3 linked regions of the Homo sapiens genome follow. The protein of the gene in region 3 interacts with the protein of the main gene of each other region in a biochemical or structural test. Each region holds a gene or a part of one and is shown on either strand. Other genes may lie near its edges.

What was found.
Region 1: the proteins of MTA1 (region 3) and BCL11A form a complex in vitro, tested with the Homo sapiens proteins (one study listed by BioGRID).
Region 2: the proteins of MTA1 (region 3) and LMO4 form a complex in vitro, tested with the Homo sapiens proteins (one study listed by BioGRID).

Annotation. Positions count from the first base shown.
Region 1 is NC_000002.12:60,456,645-60,459,758, forward strand, and holds the end of BCL11A (BCL11 transcription factor A), read right to left. Parts: 3' UTR 550-3,114; downstream 1-549. UniProt on the Homo sapiens protein: Transcription factor. Associated with the BAF SWI/SNF chromatin remodeling complex. Binds to the 5'-TGACCA-3' sequence motif in regulatory regions of target genes, including a distal promoter of the HBG1 hemoglobin subunit gamma-1 gene.
Region 2 is NC_000001.11:87,342,290-87,345,942, reverse strand, and holds part of LMO4 (LIM domain transcription factor LMO4), read right to left. Parts: intron 1,156-3,653; coding exon 1,147-1,155; 3' UTR 1-1,146. UniProt on the Homo sapiens protein: Transcription cofactor. Plays a role in establishing motor neuron identity, in concert with MNX1, acting, at least in part, to disrupt LDB1-LHX3 complexes thereby negatively modulating interneuron genes in motor neurons.
Region 3 is NC_000014.9:105,461,312-105,464,964, reverse strand, and holds part of MTA1 (metastasis-associated protein MTA1), read right to left. Parts: intron 1,782-3,653; coding exon 1,707-1,781; intron 1,473-1,706; coding exon 1,414-1,472; intron 934-1,413; coding exon 818-933; intron 550-817; coding exon 398-549; intron 292-397; coding exon 102-291; intron 1-101. UniProt on the Homo sapiens protein: Transcriptional coregulator which can act as both a transcriptional corepressor and coactivator. Acts as a component of the histone deacetylase NuRD complex which participates in the remodeling of chromatin.

The sequences.
Region 1 (3,114 bases), on a different chromosome or scaffold from region 3:
AACAAAACAAAACAAAACCTGATGCCTTTGTTTCCAGATTTTTAGATTTCAAAAGTGGGGTTATTTTGTTATGAGAAAAGACTCTTACATGGAAACCAAAGAGCTGATTTTTTTTAAAAAAATCTTTTTTACATTATGTTCTAAGATAAAGCAAGGATGGGAGAATAGAAAAGAACTTTTAGACAACAAGAACAGCAAAAAATTTAAAGGAAATAAAAGTTTAAGATGCTATTACCAGCAAGTTTTTTCACTTATGTTTGAATGGATTTCTGCTAAGAGATGGAGTAAGTTTTTAACATCAGACTGAAAACACCTTCCATTTCTTGAAAACTATTCTAAACTGGAAAGCCTTAAAACTATGTCCAGGGTTTGAGATATGTCTATTTTAATATAGTAAGTACTTTATGTTCCTTTAGGGTATAATACACGCATCAGAATGCCCATAGAAATAATCCTGAAAAAGACTGACTGGCCTTCTCTTAAAACCTGTTATTTTCTTGCAAGTAATTTACAGAGTGTGTCAAATGAGGACACAAGAAGCTTACAATGTGTACTTTAATTTTTTTTATTTTTTCAATAAAGGGACAAAATGGGTGTATGAACAGGTTAATGCAGACAACTGCCAAAAAAACACAGACAGTGGTTTTTCCAATAGAACTTAACAAAGACCAGAAACAAATACAATAAAAAGCCAGGTTGTAATGACCTTTGGTCATCTAAATAAAAAAAAAAATAAAAACAAAGAAAAATAAAAGATCAAATTAAGTGCCTCTGTTTTGAACAGGGCACATAAGCAATAATAAATAGTGACTCCCATAGTAAAAGATAAAATTTCAAGTTACGACAAACAGCTTTCATTACAGGAATAGAAAAGGCCAATAACAAAATATTCTGCATTGCCATTTACAAAAAAGTATTGACTAAAGCGGGCTTTCTCTTTAATATGCTTTGCATATGAAATTCTTTCCAATCTAAATATAAAGCACCATTTAGTTTTTGGCAATGAAAAAAACTGCAAAACATTGGTTTTTTTTTTTTTTTCCTTTTTTTTTCTTTCTTTCTTTTACTGCATATGAAGGTAAGATGCTGGAATGTAGGGTGATAGAAGGAAAGGGACAAAAAGCACACTACATAACAAACCAACGTTATTAGCTTGCAGTACTGCATACAGTATGGCAGCAGGAAAAAGGAACAAAAAAGGATATGTACAACCCCTATGACAGCCATCCATGTGACATTCTAGCAGGCTCCCCCAAACCGCCATTATATGGCTTCTCATCTGTAATGTCACACTTTTTTGTTTCTCTCTTTTTTTTTTTTTTGAAGCATACAAATAATTTGCACTATATTATCCTGCCAAATTAAAAAAATATACTGTGGCAGCCTGTCTTTTTTTTTTCCACTACCAAAAAAGGTACATTGATACCTTTTAAGAGAACAAGCAACAGTTAAAAATACAAGCTTCAATATAAATACTATAGTGCCTAACACTAGATGAACATTTAATTCAAATACCATTCTAGAAATACAGAAAAAAGACCATAAATGTATTTTAGCATAGGAATCAACATGAGTGTGCATTTTCCTATATTTAAGTACTATATAATCTTAAACCTTTCCCCAATGTATGTTTTTTTTTTTTACAACCTGAAGAGCGGTGTGTATCCAAGGCATAGAATTTCCACTACCATTTTTAAATGGATAACAAGTCTTGTAACACCACCAAGACAATGGAACCCTAAAATGCAGTTCCCCCCTAAACATAATGAAGTGTTTTTTAAAAAAAATTTTTCTTAACATTTATATTTAAAAAAGTTTTGTACAAAAAAATCCTTGCACTGTAGAAGCGAAAGCAATCATTCATTTCTATGTTAAGTGTATTCTGTTTCCATTCACAGCGCTTGCAATGTTGCGTCCAAGTAAGTAAGCTCAATAGTCAAGTAAATGGCTGGCAAAGTTTTTTTTTTTTTAGTTTTTAAAAAATGCTCCTCAATGAGATTGTGTTCAATTTTTTTTCAGCATTCTTGCAACTTTTCCCTTAAGTATAGACCTGTAAACTGGGAAAATTGTACAGTGCACTTAATTGTCCTATCTGAGCAGGTTTATTTTATACTCAACCTCTGTATCTCTGATTAGAGAAAAGATACAGATATCACAGGCAGAGTCAAGTGCTATTTGAACACCAACTGGGGCAGATGCTAGCTTAATAAAAAAGAAAAAATTAAAAAAATAAAAATAAAAACAATGAATCCTCTTCCATGTTAACACAAATAGCACACAGTGTATGGAAAAGAAATGAAGTACAACTTTTAGGGAGCACAGACATATATACTGCTACTCTTAAAATTCTTTCTCTTCTTTTTTTAAGAATGTCACATTTAAATGCAAGTCTTAAGAATTCATAGTTAATCATCATTGTATCAATATTAGCTTATATACCTGTTCTAGTTTTAAATGGCAAATAGTACCACGTTGTGCTAATAAATCATATTATTTTCTTCTGTTCCCCTCTGTCAAACCTTATTGTCAGCCTCTTCCTTTCAATATGGTATACAAGGTCTTAAAGTTTATCATTTGATTGTCCACTTGACAACCAAGTAGATCTGGATCTATTTCTTTTGGTGCCAGTATTTTTAAAAAGACATTATTAAAGCAAATATCTTCATAAAATGAACTCCTTACTAGTGTATTTAATTGCGTTCCAGGGCTTTTGCACATTACACATTCAATTTAATCATTGTTTAAAAAAAATAAAACTTTGGGCAAAACAGCCCATTTCTTTTAAGCTCTCACCAGGAGCAAAGTAGCTTTTATACTGGTATAATCAGTTTTGTTTATAAAATTAAACTAAAGGAAAAATGATGATTAACTAGGACATAATGGGTCATCTTTTTAGGTAGCCATTGTTGTGAGAAATACAATATAGAATTATATGCTAGTTCCTAAGGTTTATTACCTCACCCAATGCTGAATTAAGCTACAAGTTTATAACAAGTAGAAAGAACCATCGATGTGGTTTTAATAGATCCAAGGCACTCATATTTTAAAACCAAATGATAGAATAAACTTGTTCTGTTTTTCTGTTAATTTGTCAATTCAAGGCCTTTTTTCTTC
Region 2 (3,653 bases), on a different chromosome or scaffold from region 3:
TTTCATCAATACCCAAGGCTTTGTTTGCTATTGAGAAAAAGAATAAACAAAATAGTGGACACTCAAGTATTTATAAACACAAAAGACTTACTGTGATATAGAAGTGTAACGAAATGCTGTTAACAGAATATTCTTGACTTATAGAAAGGACCCTGTTAGAAACTACTTTGTACCCCTGCCAATAATGGCGTGGTTAAGTAATTTGAAGAATACCTTACTGGCCCAGAGCTAAATAAATATACACTCCACCTCCCTCAACTCCTTCAAATTTAAAGTGAGCTTGTTATTCAACAACAATAAAAACTAAATTTCTTCAAAATACAGAAGAGAAAAAGCAGTGTTTAAACCCAAACACCATTAAATATTTTTTCTTTTAAGTTTTTATTATTTAAATACACCATACTAGAGCAAATGTCTCTGAAAATATCACAAATAAAAGATTTTTTTTTTTCTTCATTCAGCAAATTAGAAGTAGGGGGAATTTTCTACACAGTAGCTGCTATGAGCCTGATTTTTTTTTCCAAATTTTTTTCTTTTTTTCATTCTTTTTTTTTTCTTTGCCATGGGAGTAGCAACATTAGGACAAAAACACTTACATGCATACATACATTGTATTTTACAGAGATACAATAAGTGTTTGTGATAGAATATCACAAAAGCCACATCTCTTTCCTTTATCTCATGGTCAGTTTTGATTGAAACACGTTTCCTTACAACACTTAAATATACAAAGAGCAAATAGAATGTTGTTAAGGTAAAACACAGGGTACAAACTCTGGCCAGTGCCCTGCTAATTGTTAATGAGGGTAGAAAGCAGATTTGAATGCTTCTTTTAATTAGCTTCATTAGTCATTTCCCTCCCCCCCAGCTCCCTCCCCCTCCCCAAGATGTCCTCTGGTGGATCTTTTTTCATTTTCTCTACAGTCTCCCATTAGCCCAGGTTCATGGAGTCCTTAATGTTCATATTCAGTCATTTTAATACACCAATAAATGCGGGAAGGGCAATCAAGACTAAAGAAGGTGCAATGGCATGGAGCTGGCACTGGTGCTAGCTACAAAGGTGACTTGTCTACTGAAGACACATGGGATCCACCTGTGATGAACAAATCTGAGATGAAGGCACGCATTCTGCATTACTCTGACCTTTTAGCAGACCTGCAAGAAATAAAAACGGGCATCTTAGCTAAAATGCTAAATTTGAGAGATATTAAACTCAAACATGACTGCTTTTGTCTTCCCCACATTCACTAATCTTCTTTTATTAGATTACTTTCCAACTGTGACTTGATAGAGGCTTTCTATGCTACTTACTCTGGCAGTGAAGAACTAAAGCATAACATTTTCTGCAGTTTTACTAGCAAAGAAAATGAGACAGTAAATGGACGCTCAGAAAGTTTCTGGTGTAAAGTACTACAATTAATTGCTTAACTCTGTTAAGAGCAAGTGTCTTTCCAAAAGGAATGTAACATCTTGCCCAGCAGTGGGATCTTGAATTTTTTAAATAGCGGGGACATTCCAAGACAAGTTCCTACCTAGGAAGTTTTGGGTTCATATGCTTAACCGTGTAACCTTTTGGAATGTTGCTTAAACTGCTTGTGTCTCAGTTTCCTCATCTTTAAAGAAGGGATAATGACACTGTTATGATAATTACATAATACATATGGGAGCACTTTCAACAGTGCTTGGCCCTTAATAAAAGTTCAACAAATACTGGCAGTTATCATTATTATTCCGATATCCCCATGTGAAAAATATTCACCCATATTGGTACTACCTATAGGTGTGTGTCTATATGAAAATTTCTATGTACAAATATTCACATATTTTTCACTATTTCTTATCTGCTATGTCACTTAATAGCTACACAAATATGTGATTCAATACATGCAATGTGTTAATGACCTGTGATAGATAAAAGAACATAGTTCAATGCAAGGGTGGCTTCAATGTCTAAGTCAGAAATGGAAATCCACACACTTGTCAAATACAATCTGTTTGCAATTACCAAAATGAAATAATACATATTAGGTTGTTATGGTTTTTAAATGACATTTTGAGCCTCCCAGGAAGTTCTCGTTTCACCCTTTCCCTAACTTACAAAAAGCCTGTAGTCTATTAGGAACTGCAACCCCCTACTTCCAAGCTAATTAAAGTGGTGAAGGCTTAATTCCCCAGAGTGGAAGCTCAGTGTGAGAAAGGTAATTTGTCTGTCCAGAACAAAGATGCAGCAGCAGCCAGCAAGCATATTTAATAAATGAGCATCAAATGTCTTCTACGATGGACACACACAACACCAATTATGTAACTATGGGGGAACTGCGAAGTGACATGTAGACTAGAACACTCACTAAATTTTCCTCCAACTAAAGAGATGTGATCTAACTCCTGTTCCACTGAAAACTGAAAAGCACAGGTAATTCTAGATGGCACCATCACACTTTTGAGTGGAAGAAAAAAATTCCAGAACAGGCAGCAATCTACAAAAGAAAAAATTAGCCACAATTCCTGATTTACATAACCCTCTAGAAGGCAGCATTCTCCCAAAGCTAGCCAAGCCTCCTTTAAGTGATATAGGTTATAAAATGTTGTAGATCCTTGAACACTAGTGGCCTGAGATTTCAGTCCATCTGAAATGCAAGATTTCAATCACTGTATGATTTAAAAGCTTAAAATTATTTTTCTTGGAATATACAACAGCCAATGATGCAGAACAACAACTACACTACACAGCCCAGACCCTGGGAACAAATCTCAGAATAAAAGTTTAAAGGGACCAGACAATGGGGGCCTATGTTTTCCATGCAATTAACTGCCTTTAAAGAAGGGATGTTCGAATAATCAACTCATTGCTTTTAAGCCAGAGGATCCTTGAGTATATTTACCACGCATAATACACCAAAAATGTAATTGATTCTGCGAATAGAAGGAAAATGGCCAAAATAAATGTCCAATTTTCCCTACCAAAAATATGGAGAACGAGAGAGGAGAAAATAATAAAACGAAGCCATTTGTCATTTCTCCCCATCTCATTGCCTCCAGAAAAGAAACGCCACAGGGTTTTGGGAAAATAATTTTAAAGCCTCTCCAGTTCCAAAAAGCAGTTTATGTTCCACCAGGAAGTATGTTTTCATTAACTCTTCCCCCTTGCCCTCTCATTAATATCTCTCTGGACCACGTTCAGCTTGCCCAAAACCTTTATTTATAAAAACTACCTTGTGAATTGACCGTGCTCATGGTGAGCTGGGCACCAAGGGCAAAAATGTGAGACACTTACGCCAACAGGGAAATGTTCTTAATTAACAGCACCCCCAAAACACAGCTTCTCACCAATGTCTGACAAGAACATTTCCATAAGTTGTATTTCCTTATGCCTTTTAAGAGCTATTAATTTTTGAAGGCCACCTGTCTCTTTTTTGGCCTCCAACATTAAGAAAACATACACTAATAGGTTCTTATTCATTGCCTAAAATATAGTGTTCCAAAATGAATACCCTACCACTGCCATCCTGGAAAAGGTGTGGAAAACAGATTTCAATGAAAGGCATAAGACATGTAATCTCATCAACAGGTAAACCTGGTTTTTCTGCAGTTCTCCTCCCTAACACCTCTAAATTTATGCCATCTTATACTATAAAAGATGGTATGAAATCCTG
Region 3 (3,653 bases):
AGATCAGAACTCCCAGTGGGGCTACAGGCTGGGCCCCAAGGTTGCTGCTCTCTCCCCACCACCCGCAGGAACAGAGTAAGCGGGGCGTTGGGGTGACTCACACTCGGCCTTGATGGCCGCGCTGTTGATGGGCAGGTAGGGGTGCCGCGCAGCGTGCCACGGGCGCAGGATCTCACGGCACAGGCGCCGGGCGATCCGCGTCAGCTTCGTCGTGTGCAGATAGAAAGCCTGCCTGGTCTTCATGGCAAACTTGGGGCTCCCGCTGCTCCGGGCTGGGAGGCCGTGGGGACTCTGCGGAAGGGGGCGCAACCGCCCCAACACAGCGCCATGACCGGGGGCCGAGGACCCGCGTGGCCGACAGGCTCATGGCAGGCAGGGCGGGTGTCCCCCCCCTTACCATGTTACTGCGGTTTGGTCCTGGCCTCTCTCCATCTAACCGGGTTGGCATTTTCAAGCCACCATATTTCTTCCAATATGTCCAACAAGATGCGCAGAGACGACACTGCATGTTAGGGGGACCCCAAGAATACCACTGGTAAGACTGTGTGGCTACGGACAACAAAGTTGGAAATAGACGGATTCTTAAGCAGAACCAGCGATGTCAGAGTATTCCCCGCCACCCCCACGCCGGCCGCCCCCACCCGCCAGGCACCCCCACACGTTCCCCGAGGCTCTCCCAACCACACCCCTGGGACGCAGCCCCCATCGTCAGTGGGCCCCTTGCAGGCTGGGCCATGCTGGAGCCCTCAGGGCCAACGCAGGCACCACGGCCCACAGGCGGGCGTGCGGTGTGCCCCCGGCCATCCAGGGCACTTACTGTAACAGCTCTCGCAGGCCCGGCCAGCCCCAGGGCTCTGGCCCGGCGCCCCCGTGCCGTTCACCACACCGGCCTTGACGTTGTTGACGCTGATTTGGTTCGGATTTGGCTTGTTACTTAAAGAGGGAAAGGAGAGACGAGAGGAGTTGCAGGAGCACAAACCTCGAGGGCCCATGTGCCCAGCAGGCACCGCGGCTGACCACCCCTTGTCCAGAACCACGTCCTCGCACCCCTCGGCCTCGGCAGGGATCTTCCTTTCTCCCCTTTCAGTTCCTGGGAGCCACTGCTGAGGTCTGAGCCGTTCTCCAGGCCCCCGTGCTCCCCCTAGCATGGAGCCCAGCTCAGGGACTGAACCCTGGCGGTGTGGGCTGGAATCCCAATGCCCCCTTACTGACCAGGAGGCCAGGACGACAGAGACATGGCCACTGCGTCTGCAGCCAGAACCCCCCAGCCCTGGGCCGCCCTCCCGGGGGCTGCCCCAACTTTCCCAGCCTCTGAGCTTGAGTTTCCTTGGGACCCGCCTGGCCCCAGCACCCTGTGCCCACCCTCCCTGGCCCCCGGGGCCACGAGGACGACGGCTGTGAGGGCACACTTACTAGTTGGGAATATAAACTTGCTTTAACTTGCTCTCAGCTTCAGCTGCTTTCAAGCGTTTCTTAAAACAAAAGAGAAGGTCAGAGGTCAGCAGGCTAGGCCCAGGTTGGGGCTGCAGTGCAGACAGGCTGGAGGCTACGGAGAGGAGAGCACCACGGAGAGGACAGCCGGGCCAGGGACTCAGGAGTCTTCCTTCCCCTCCTGCTGCAGCAGTGCACGCCCACCTGCTGGGAGAGGATGGGGCGCAGGACGGGGAGGCGGCACACCCCGGGCACTGAGTGGCGGGCGGGCTCACCTGCTGCACGTATCTGTCGGTGGTCTTCCACATGTAGTAGTACTCAATGATGCTGGTCAGCGACTTCCACGGGAGCTGGGTGGGAGGAGGCGTGTCACACAAGCAGGAAGGGGCAGGAGGCAGGCACACCATGCAGGCAGGGGCAGGGCTGCGGCCAGAAGGCCACAGAGGGGGCGGGAGGCCAGAGGGCGAGGTGTGCTTGGTGCACGGAGGCCAGGCCCCTGCTGGCAGGCAGGTGCAGAGGGCAGCTGATGAAGCAGGTCCCCCCGCCAGATGCCAAAACACAGTGACGCCAGGGGAAGAGGAGCTGGCACAAGGTCAAGGTCGAGATCTTGCCGAGGTGGCACTGACAACCCAGCCTCCATCTCAGCCTTTTTTTTGTTTGTTTTTGAGACGGAGTCTCGCTCTGTCACCCAGGCTGGAGTGCAGTAGTACAATCTCGGCTCGCTGCAACCTCTGCCTCCCGGGTTCAAGCAATTCTCCTGCCTCTGTCTCCTGAGTAGCTGGGACTACAGGCACCTCTCAACACACCCGGCTAATTTTTGTATTTTTAGTACAGACGTGGTTTCACCATGTTGGCCAGGCCGGTCTCGAACTCCTGACCTCAAGTGGTCCACCCACTTCGGCCTCCCAAATGGGATTATAGGCATAAGCCACCATGCCCGGCCATCTCAGCCATTTTTGTTTTTGAGACAGAGTCTCGCACTGTCGCCCAGGCTGGAGTGCAGTGGTGCGATCTCGGCTCACAGCAACTTCCACCCCCGGGGGTTCAAGTGATTCTCCTGCCTCTGTCTCCCGAGTAGCTGGGACTACAGGAGCCTGCCACCATGCCCGACTAATTTTTGTATTTTTAGTAGACATGGCGTTTCACCATGTTGGCCAGGATGGTCTTGATCTCCTGACCTCATGATCCTCCTGCCTCGGCCTCCCAAAGTGCTAGGATTACAGGCATGAGCCACTGCGCCCGGGCTGTGGCATGGATTTAAGAAACCTGTCTTATTAAATAAGGGTTCAGATAGTTCCTCAGTCTGGTCCACTGCATCTGGCAGGAAGGAGAGCGGGGCCTGCTCCCTCGACACAGCCCCGAAGCTGCAGCCTCCCATCCCCGCACCTGGACAGGGCCCCGCAGCCGCAGCCCCCCGAGACCGTGCCTGGGCATGGCCCCGCAGCCGCAGTCCCCTGAGCGCTGCCTCGCTAGGCATCACGTGGGCTCAGCACTGGGGTCTCCTCCGCTGGAACCATGTGCAGCAGGGTCTCCCTCAAATTCCGCCCTGGTCTGAGCCTAGTTGGTGAATTTTGTTTCTAGCCCTCGTCCTCTTGTCTGAACATGTTCTGCTCATCTTGGTTTGTTTTTAAGCCTGGAGAGATCCGTATCCGCCTTGGAGAGGCCGCTGGCCCCAGGGACAGTCAGGGACTCCTCCCGCCCGGCCAAGCTCTCCCCTTGGCCAGAGGCCCCCACACAAAGCTGCACTCCTGCCCCCAGCAGATGCGTCCTCAGGAGCCTCACAGCTGGCTGCTGTCCCTCCTCCTCTTCAGGTCTAGGCACCCTACCCAACCCCATGTTTGTTTCTTCCGAATTCCAGATGCGTCTCCAGCCTCTGCTGCGCTGGCCTGTGCGCTGCTGCCCGGATGGTGCTTTCATCAGATACTAGCCACCCCGCTGTGTCCCGGCCCCTTTGGGGCTCCTCCCTGCCCTGCCACAGTCTCCACCTCCCCAGGGCTGATGGTTGGGGGCCCCACCACCCCCACATAGGGATGCTCTTCTAACAGATTAATTTAGAAGTATTTTAGGAGGGCTGACGGTTGGAGGGTGGGGGTCCTGAGGTGGAGGTACAGGGAAGGGAGACCCCACGCCATGAAGACTCTCTAGGCCTGCTGCTGGGCTAAACTCACGTGAGACAGAAAACAAGGACATGAGGAGTCAAGAGGTTCAGCTTAGTCAAAAAC